Linked DNA regions of Homo sapiens. The gene in region 1 interacts genetically with each later gene. Each region holds a gene or a part of one and is shown in the gene's direction. Other genes may lie near its edges. The genes, in order: POLN, MRPL22 and ACTR10.

Region 1 (3,500 bases):
ATGGCTTAATATGTTTTTGAGACTCACTCATGTTGATACACGTAAAGCTATATAGTTCATTCATAGTTTTCTCTTTTGTATAGTTAGTATTCCATTATATGATATTCCACAATGAAATTATCTGTTAGATTGACAGACATTTAGGTTATTTACAGTTTTTGTTACTATAGATCATACTGCTATGATGGTCTTATATGTCTCACAGCTGCACAATTCCAGTTTCTCCACATCTTTGCCAACACTTGTTATTTCCTGTGGTTTTTAAAACAGTAGCCATCCCAACGGGTGTGAAGTGGTATCTGTGATTTGTTTTTTGAAAGGTCTCCCATTACTGATTTTTGTCTTCTTGATCTATTGAGAATTGTGTAAAAATTTCCACTGCGATGGTGGATTTAAAAATTTCCACTGCGATGGTGGATTTGAAAATTTCTCCACATAGGCTGGGTGCGGTGGCTCACGCCTATAATCCCAGCACTTTGGGAGGCTGAGGCGGGTGGATCACAAGGTCAGGAGTTCAAGACCAGCCTGGCCAAGGTGGTGAAACCCCATCTCTACTAAAAATACAAAAATTAGCCGGGCGTGGTGGCGGGTGACTGTAATCCCAGCTACTTGGGAGGCTGACACAGGAGAATCCCTTGAACCCGGGAGGCAAAGTTTGCAGTGAGTCAAGATCGCGCCACTGCACTCCAGCCTGGGCGACAGAGCAAGACTTGGTGTCAAAAAAGAAGAAAATTTCTCCATGTAGTTGTATATCATTTTTTTCTCTATGTATTTTGAGTCTATTTTATAAGTTATATCCAGGTTTAAAGTTGCAGTGAATAATTATCCTGGTCGTTTTAAATTGCAGTGAATCAAAGCATTTAGCATTACATAATGACTATTCCTGGTGATGCTTTTTCTCTTGATATTGTTTTGTCTAATATTAATATTCCTTTGCCATTTTTCTTTTGCTTAGTAATGTAAGGCATATAGTTTTCTTTTCTTTACACTTTTCCAGTAAGTTTTTGTTATTAGTTAAGTCCTGATTCACGGACCCAGGGTAGGGATCATCATGTACCCAGGTCCCCGTTTACCACCCTGGGAGAAGGATGGAGAACAGAGGAAAGGTGGGGTGGAGCCAGTTCTGATTTTCCCAGGAAACGTGCCTTTGTCCCAGGTCAAGACCAAGGATATGGGGCAGAGGGACTTGCACACATGCCAGTACCATTTGCACACAGAGACATCACCCCCTTTAGCAGTCATTGCCGTCTTGGAGTGGTAGAAGTCCAGGTAGTTTTGCCAGCAGTTCATGTTCTGGTTCTAGTTGACAAAGTGGCTGTCAAATGGGACAGTCCTGTAGTTCTTAATTTTGACCTTCATGTCTTCTGCCATGGTGCTAACTTCTAAAGACCCTCAGCAAAGACCATAGTTTTGTTTTTACTTAGCATGATGAAATAAACATTTTTACTCTCTAAATAGTTTTCTTAACTTTTAATGTTAACTATACTGTCTTGATTTAATTACTGTGCCATCAATTTTGTAGCTGGTTATTGTTACTGGGTATTTTGATAGTCTTCTTTTTTTTCTTTTGTTTGCTCTTGAACAATATCATATGTATCTTTGTGTATATAGCTTTTTGTTGTTGGATACTTTCATCTGGATACATTCTTGGAAATAGGGTCATTGGGGTTTTTTGTGCCAGGGTGGTATATACACTTTTTTTTGCCTTTGATATGGCCAGATTGCTTTTTAAAGGAGTTTATAATGCTACCAGCACTATATAAGTGTCTACTAGACACCATTGACCATATGGCACGCCATCATTTTATGAATTGCCAAAAAAGAAAAACTCTTAGTTAAACCAACACAATGTTTTCTTATTAAGAATTTTTGTTTTTCATACTTACTAGAAAAGATCTTTTTAGATGTAGGTAGACATAGATTTTTATCATACCACTCTTGGGCATATGTTAAAAGGAAAAAAATAAGTCAATTTAAATGGTTAGGGTAGTTCTAAAGCATCACATTTCAATGTTCAATTCTTCTGTTATTTTTTGACTCAGAGTTGTCTGTAATTTTCCACACTGTGTATCAGGAATGTTGATGAGAAAGTATTTCTTAAGAGTACCTGGCCAGAAACAATCATATGATGTTCTTGATTAAGATGCATCTTCATTTCAGATATGTTAAAATGTGAAAAAAAAATGCATCCAAGAATCACTAAAATATGGTAATCTCACTCTAATCTTATCAGTGGGTATCATTAGTGTTTTTCCCTAGCTCAATGTGATATAAAATGCCGTATCAATTTTAACTTGTGTTTCTATTATTAATGAAGCTGAACTTCAGTATCTGTAGCAATGTTGTTTTAGCAACTGTATGATCTTTAGTATTTAATTGAAGGTAAAGATGAGATTGTTGTTTCTCAGTATATTCAAGTTTACCAAGTTTGTCTTAGAGGATATCACTAAATGTAGATATAATGTCGAAATTACTTGATTTTCAAAAGTATGTATTTTAAGAAGTACTCCTCTGTGAATTGGCATTTATGACAGGTCTTAAGTAGTCATTCTTGAACTTGTACATTAGAATCATCAGGGAGCGTATCAAAACGCAGGTTCCTAGCTCTGTACAGAGATTAAGTAATTTAGTCTAGTGGGGGGGTACAGGAATCTGTATTCATAACAAGTACCTCAGATAATTATGATACTTGTGGACTATGCCTAGAAGCTGTGGAAAATTGAGGGTAGTTAGAGCAACAGATTTTTCTGAGAACCTCTTTGGTGATACTGGCTAAAATTTATAAGTAGAATGCTTGATTAGAAAGCTATGGAAACTTGTTAATAATCTGGTTTAAATGCTAGACACTGAGGAATTTGAATTTACTGTAATAAATATGAAGGGTCGGCATGGCTAGATTCTTGAGCAGGAAAATTATATGATTAGGATGGTTTTCGTGGAATGTCATGTGTAATTCTATTTGGTAAGACAATATGAAAAAATGAAAAATGGAGATTTGTGTTGAGCTAATTCTCTTTTATTGGTCTTCATTTCAACTTTCTCTGTACCTTCTGTCCAGAATAAACAGAGAATAGGCTAAAACAAGGTTTGATTTATTAAGCAGAATATAAGCTCCATCAGGGAGATTTTGTTTATTCTTGTATCAGTAATCTCTAAAACAGTACTTGGCACAATAGCATTTGTTGAATATATGAATGCACAGAACAGCTTACATATCGAGTACACTTCAGCAAGAGTTTCCTTTGAATCACTTAAAATTATCTATCAGAAGTTGTTGCAATTAATCTTACTTAGAATTTATATTAAACCTGTTATGGATTTTAAATCGAGGTTTATTTATTGCTAAAATTGCGGGAAGTTATTAAGTCCTTTAAAGTCTTTCCATGTAAATTATATTTTAATTTTATAATTGGTATTAGGAATAAAGTGTTTTAATTTTTATTTTTATTTTCCTTTTTTAGGAGTTAACAGAGCAGTTTCATAAAGTTGAATCTCAACTG
Region 2 (3,736 bases), on another chromosome or scaffold:
GATTTTGTTAGGTATTTTGATGGCACTAATCTTGATATTAGGATAGGAGATAGTGAACTTGGGGTAAAAATGATACACTAGAATAGATTTGTTTGAGTCTTTGGTCTAAATGGCTTGAAGACTAAAAACAAAGGTTTTGTTTGCCAAGTAAATCATCCAAGTTGCATATTTGTATGAGAATATGCCAATATACAACCACTTTGAGTATATAAGTCTGAGTTAAATGTTTACGCAGTATCCACGTACCAGACATTGTTCTTGGTGCTAGAATACAAAGAAAGTCGGACTTGCCCTTTAAATGCTCAACATCTGTACACTTAGTACAATAACTCATTCTATTATAGCCACTTACGATAGTACAGTGGTCTAAGTCATTGCTGTATGGCTGGCAAGAACAAAGTATTAAGACAACGCGAGAATCATGATCAGATAAGGGATTAGGTGATGTTTCACATTGAGGTGACATTTGAGCTAGAACTTAAAACAGGATAAGCATTTCATTCAGGAGATAATAAGACGAGAAAACAATTTGAATAAAGGCTTGTTCAGGGAACAATGAACATCTATGTGGCTAGGCTATAAGGGCAGATTGGGTCTAGATTATGAAAGGCCTTCTATGTCTCGCTAAAGAGTCTGGACTTCGTATTGTGGGCAGTAGGGAAATACCAAAGTTTGCTGTGTTAACTTTTTATTTGGATATGCCCAGACATATACAAAAGTAGACAGTTTGATGAACCTCCATGTATCCGTCACCCAACTTCAACACTTACTACTTATGGCCAATGTTATTTATAACCTGTACTCTCCCTCATCATATTTTGAAACACTCCCCCCACTGTATCATTTTCATAAATATTTTACTATTATCTCATTAAAAAGCATTAAATATCCATTTGATATTTAAACTTCCAATGGCTTCGTAACTGTCATACTTTATAATAGTTCACACATTGAAACTAATTGATATTTCTGTTAAATCTCTTACTCTGTAGGTTTTTTATTCAACCCTCTCTTTTTTTTCTTGTAATTTATTTGTTGGAGACAATTGGTTGTTTTGTAGCGTTTTCTATACCTTGGATTTTACCGAGTGCATCCCCATGATATTACGTAACATGTTGTCTTTTCTCTGTGTTTCCTATTTTGAATCTAGGGGCTTGAGCCCCCAGTTTCATTTTGGGCAGGAAAGACTACTTTGTGGATGGTGGGTGGTGTGTTCTTCCATAAGGAGGCACATAATGCCTCCTTTATCCATTAGTTTATTAAGGATTATAAGATGATGCTATAATAATTTGCTATTCCTTCATTACTAACTTTATACAAGTCAAATTTTTCCTCATCTACTACTTGGAAACTTAATGGTACAGTTTGTATAGGAAAGACAGGATAAGTCTTGTCTTTTTCTTCATTCTTTCTCTTCATTCACCAGTTTTCAAAATAACAAGTTGGCTCACTAGCATTTTCTAATGGTAATTAATTTGTATTTTTCCTGGTTTTATTATGAACTTATGGCTTTAAACATATTTGATGTGTTTCAACCCACTACAATTATTGTCCTGATTAATGCTTGGCTTGTCCCATCTTTGGCTTGTTGGGCATCCACAAGTTGGCTCCTGAGTGCCTTTGACATGACCTTGGTAATCTTTGATGGCTTCTTTGCTTTCTGATATGACAAGATGTTCTGGGCTCATTTTGTATGTTATCTGCTTGAGATCTGCAATCAGCCATTTCTCTCAGAAGTTTTGGTTCTCTTCAATAGGAAATGGTATTTCAAGACCGTAATCTGGGAAGTAGGGGCACTAATTGCTACTAGATTGTTCATTGCTTCTACACCTCTTCAGTGGAGAGATCTAGTACTTATTGGATTTTGGCTGAACCTTTTCTGCTTATTTCCATACCAAGAATCCCAGTAGTCAGTGACACTGAAAAAAAAGGATAGCATTAGAATATTACATAACTATTCATTTGCTTATTTCAATAGACGTTTTTAAGCTGGAGGATGACATGAGTAGCTCTGAATTATAGAAGGGTAGCTCATTTGGTACTCAAGCAGAGAAAGATGGATTGGAATTGGGCAAGTTGATGGAAGAGAAATCAATCTAGAGGCTATTGCTATATAGGATGGTGGCAATTAGAATGGGGAAGAGGTAAAGCATTTGAGAACGATTTCAGGGGAATCTTTATTTTATCTGTAAGATTTGGTGACTAGCTCTGGCAGGATGAAAATCATTGGGAAGTTGAAGATAAACTCTAGAACACCATTCAAGAGTGATTTTATTTAGTGATATAGGGGAGTAGCGGATGCTGGGGAAAATGGGAGAGGGAGAATGACTAGTTGTATATTATTAAAGCAGTTAAAGTGTGGGGGAAGAGGTCAAGGAATAGTGAATTTGGGATCTTCATCATCAAGTCTCAGCCTATTAGTTTAGCATTCAAAGACAACCACTCTAGCCTCAATGACCTTTCCAATACTTAACAAATTCTCTGACTCAGTCAGACCTCCCCTTATTTCTCAACTCTGTACCTCTGCATAGATGATATATGTCGTTGCCCCATTCCTCTGATAATTAGTGTATTAGTCCATTTCACACTGCTATAAAGATACTACCTGAGACTGGGTAACTCATAAACCAACAAGGTTTGATTGACTCACAGTTCTGCGTGGCTGGGGATGCCTCAGGAGACTTAGAATCATAGGGGAAGGTGAAGGGGAAGCAGGCAACTTTTTCACAAGGCAGCAGGAGAGAGAGACAGTGCAGGGAAACTGCCACTTTTAAACCATCAGATCTCATGAGAACTCCCTCACTATCACGAGAACAGCATGGGGGAAACTGCCCAGCGATCTAATCACCTCCCACCAGGTCCCTCCCTCAACATGTATGGATTACAATTGAAGATGAGATTTGGGTGGGACACAGAGCCGAGCCATATCAATTAGGAAGTTCAAGATTCACCTGAAGTCACCTCTGAAATCCTCTGCTGTTTCCCATATTTTAGTTATGTGGTTTTATATTGTCTTCTAATTGTTTTGTGTTTTTGTCTTAGTTACTCAACAAAGTTGGGCAATCTTACAGGTCAGATCAGAGAGCTCATTATGTCTTCTCTAAATCTTTCTTAGGAGTGGGTGACTTATAGAAGACAGTGTTATTGGCCAGTCAGGGCAAGAAATCTTGGGTTAATATCTATTAACGGTTTGACTTATGTGCGTTTACTTTCTCTCCTGTTAGCCTCTAATAAACTGTCTCTTTGTTGTGTTTAAAAGTAGTCTCTATTAATGAATACCTCTAGAATATTTCCAGTTGTGATCCTTAAATTGTTTTCATCAAAATGGAGCTGAAGTGGTTCAAAAGATATGTAAACTCTACAGAAAGGTCCCCTAAGTGTCTGTTGTTTTATAGGCTTCTTTCATTTCACAGTGTTTTACCTCAATCATATATCCACACAAGTGCTTCTCTTGACATTTCTCGAAAATGGGAGAAGAAGAATAAAATTGTTTATCCTCCACAACTGCCTGGAGAACCTCGGAGACCAGCAGTAAGTTCGTGGGTAGAACTAATCTCTTAATTGTGGTAGTGCTCTTACTCTTAAGTGATTAGTAATGATTTATTATTCTGTGTTAAAAAAATTATACAACCATTCACTCTAATTGACAGAGAAGATGTACTAGATTTATCTCTTCAATAGTTGAAAAAGATTGTTATTCTTTACTTATTTGTCTTTACTTAACCTCCTGGATAGG
Region 3 (3,736 bases), on another chromosome or scaffold:
TGCAGAAGGTGAGGAAAATATCAAGGAAACCACATTTTATCTCCTAAAATAGTAGTATCCTTGACTACTCTATAGATATATGAAGGAATCCCAGTTCTAAATTGTTGGGGAGCACTACCCCTAGGAGGAAAAGCTCTTCACAAGTAAGTTTCTTGGAATTTAACATATTCATTTCACCTGTGCCACAAAAACAGTTGCTAATCTGTTTGTTGATCAGTGATCAATAGAGGGCTTGTGATACGGACAGTGAATTTTATTCATTCCGCCCTCTATTAGCTTCGAGTATATTCATTTTTTAAGAATAAACCAGTTTTTTAAATTTTTAATTTTTGGGGGTACATAGTAGGTGTATATATTTATGAGGTACCTGGGATGTTTTGATACAGGCATGCAATGAGAAATAAGCACATCATAGAGAATGGGGTATCCATCTCGTCAAGCATTTATCCTTTGAGTTACAAACAATCCAGTTATACTCTTTACATGATTTTAAAATGTACAATTAAGTTATTATTGTCTACAGTCACCCTGTGGTGCTATTAAATAGTAGGTCTTACTGTTTCTATTTTTTTGTACCCATTAATTATCCTCACCTCCCTTGTATCCCTCCACTATCCTCCCTGGCCTCTGGTAGCCATCTTTCTACTCTCTATGTCCATGAGTTACATTGTTTTGCTGTTTAGATCCCACAAATAACTGAGCACATATAATATTGGTCTTTCTATGCATGGCTTATTTCACTTAACATAATGATCTCCAGTTCCATCAATGTTGTTGCAAATGACTGGATCTCATTCTTTTTTATAGCTGAATAGTATTCCATTGTGTATATGTACCACATTTTTTTCTTTTTTTTTTTAACTTTTATTAAGTTTAGAGATACAAGTGCAGGTTTATTACATAGGTAAACTTATGTCATGGGGAAGACCTTTATTATTATTATTATTATTATTGAAATGGAGTCTCGCTCTGTCACCCAGGCTGGAGTGCAGAGGCATGATCTCGGCTCACCGCAACCTCCGCTGCCTGGTTTCAAGCGATTCTCCTACCTCAGCCTCCCGAGTAGCTGGGACTACAGGCGTGCGCCGCCACGCCTGGCTAATTTTGGTATTTTTAGTAGAGATAGAGTTTTGCCATGTTGGCCAGGCTGTTCTCAAACTCCTGACCTCAGGTGATCCACCCGCTTCAGCCTCCCAGAGTGCTGGGATTACAGGCGTGAGCCACCGTGCCTGGCAGGAAGATCATTTTTATTTAAATCATAATAATCGGGCTGGGTGTGGTGGCTCACACCTGTAATCCCAGCACTCTGGGAGGCCAAGGCAGATGGATCACCTGAGGTCAGGAGTTCAAGACCAGCCTGGCCAACATGGCAAAACCCTATCTCTACTAAAAATACAAAACTTAGCCGGGCATGGTGGCGGGCACCTGTAATCCCAGCTACTCGAGAGGCTGAGGCAGGAGAATCACATGAACCTAGGAGGTGAATGTTGCAGTGAACTGGGATTGCGCCACTTCACTCCAGCCTGGGCAACAGAGTAAGACTGTCTCCAAAAAAAAAATCATAATAATCTATTATGTAGTTGAAAGTATCAAATAAGGATATCAGTTTCAATATTTTCATTCCAGTAACTTTTTTTTTTTAATTTCAGAGAGTTGGAAACTCAACTATTGGAACAATGTACTGTTGACACAAGTGTTGCTAAAGAACAGAGCCTTCCCTCAGTGATGGGTAAATTCATTTTAAGTGGTTTAGGAGTGGTTTACACTCTCTTTTTGTTCTTCAACTTGTATTTTAGTCTTTGCTCCATTGCATGATTATTCTCTTTTCTCCCCATGCCACTCTGATGGTACTGCTTCAACTATAAGCTCACCATTGAACTTTTAATCACTAAATTCAATAGTTTGATTTTAGTCATCCTTTCCAGAACTTTTGACATTGTGGATCATCATGTACTCTTGAATGCTTTCTTCTCCTTGGCTTTCAGGATTCTTTTTTTTAGTGGTTGTCTATTATTTCCCCAAATATTCCTCTGGTTTCCTCTGCTCTTGCTTTCTCTACTTGTATTCGACTAGGGATCTAGTGTTTGTTCCTTCTTTTTCTCTACTGGCTTTTTAACTGTGATCTTATCTACTCCCACAACTTCTACATCTGCATGCTGTTGATTCTGAAATGTGTCACTGGGCCTGATCCTTCTTCTGAACTTGATATTCATATTTCCAACTGATTATTAGAGACTGTGCATGTCTCTAGGCACCTCAAACTTAAGATTTCCAAAAGTGAATACATTATGTCTTTCCTCAAATTCATTTCAATTATTAGATAAAGGTAATATTTTCCTTGTCTCCCGTTTTACAAAACTGGAAGTTAGCCTTTCAATTCTTCAGAAATCTCTTTCAGATCTCATTTTTCTTTCTTTCTTTTTTTTTTTTTTTTTAACCTTCCACACCATTGAACACCCGAGAGCAAAGACATTGTTTTAATCTAGGCCCTCATTTCTTAGATTATTACAGAAGTCTACTCTGGATGGATTCGGTCTGTTTCACACTGTTGCCAGGAATAACTTTCCACAAATATTTTTATGTTTTTGAGACAGGATCTCACTCTGTTGCCCAGACTGGAGGGCAGTGGCGCGATCTTGGCTCACTGCAGTCTCCACCTCCTAGGCTCAAGCCATCCTCCATTCTCAGCCTCCTGAGTAGCTGGGACTACAGGCGCAAGCCACCACACCCAGCTAATTTTTGGGGGGTACATTTTGTAGAGATGGGGTTTTGCCATGTCGCCTAGGCTGGTCTCGAACTCCTGAGCTCAAGCAATCCACCAGCCCCCGCCTCCCAAAATGCTGGGATTACAGCCTGAGCCACTGTGCCCAGCCAATTTTTCACAAAATAAATATAAATACATTGCTCTTTTGCTTGAGAATTTTTGTAAGCTCCTACAGGTTAAAATCCAAATTATCTGTTGGATATAAATGTTTCTTCAAAATCTGAGTTTGTTCTACCTCTTATCCTTAGGTCACTAAACTTTATCCTTTGCTCCTTATTAAAGCTACAGTAAATTTCTTACAGTTGTCGAGGCACCGTGAGTCCTAGCACAGCCCTGTGCCTTCATTTATTCTTTTTCTTTCCCTGGGATGTTTTTCTTTGCCTAGTTTGGTTTTTGATCCCTCTGCATGACTCAGCTGGAATGTCATCTTAATGGTGAAGCCTTCCTCATCTTCCCTAAGCAGAATAAATTGCTCCTCTCTGTTAAGCCCTTGGCAGTAATTTATTATAGCACATATGACACATTCTCATTTGCCTCTTAACTCACTTGTTTCCCCCAGGAGACTTTGAGGATCCCTGTCTTATTTATTTTTCAATCTGCAGCACCTAGTATAGTGCTAGGGCATTGAATATATGTTGGAAAGCGAGATTTTTGCGACACTTAGGCATACCTATGTTTTCCTGTTGTTCCCTATTGATAGTTAAGTTAATAGCATTTTTCATTCTGTAGATCCAATTATAGCTTTCAAATTCCAGATAACTTTGTGATGTCTTAGTATATTTTGGTGACAGGTAATTTATAAAAGGTCTTCAAAGATAATAAATTCAGTGTAGCATCCCAAGATGTTCTTTGTAAAGGTCTTTAAACCCAATAATATTTCCATAAAATTATAAACGATACATTCTTGGATATTCTTTTTCTAGTCAACCTTGTACTGATTCTAACCTTTCCTTTTAATACTCACAATCTGAG

Evidence for each region.
Region 2: changes in POLN (region 1) and MRPL22 together harm fitness more than expected from each alone (negative genetic interaction), as found in Homo sapiens cells (one large-scale study listed by BioGRID).
Region 3: changes in POLN (region 1) and ACTR10 together harm fitness more than expected from each alone (negative genetic interaction), as found in Homo sapiens cells (one large-scale study listed by BioGRID).

The regions. Positions count from the first base shown.
Region 1 is NC_000004.12:2,232,122-2,235,621, reverse strand, and holds part of POLN (DNA polymerase nu), read left to right. Parts: intron 1-3,461; coding exon of another isoform or gene 3,462-3,500. Other genes in the region: HAUS3 (HAUS augmin-like complex subunit 3), read left to right, coding at 3,462-3,500. UniProt on the Homo sapiens protein: DNA polymerase with very low fidelity that catalyzes considerable misincorporation by inserting dTTP opposite a G template, and dGTP opposite a T template. Is the least accurate of the DNA polymerase A family (i.e. POLG, POLN and POLQ).
Region 2 is NC_000005.10:154,947,408-154,951,143, forward strand, and holds part of MRPL22 (large ribosomal subunit protein uL22m), read left to right. Parts: intron 1-3,413; coding exon 3,414-3,531; intron 3,532-3,736.
Region 3 is NC_000014.9:58,213,556-58,217,291, forward strand, and holds part of ACTR10 (actin-related protein 10), read left to right. Parts: intron 1-75; coding exon 76-143; intron 144-1,649; coding exon 1,650-1,729; intron 1,730-3,736. UniProt on the Homo sapiens protein: Part of the dynactin complex that activates the molecular motor dynein for ultra-processive transport along microtubules.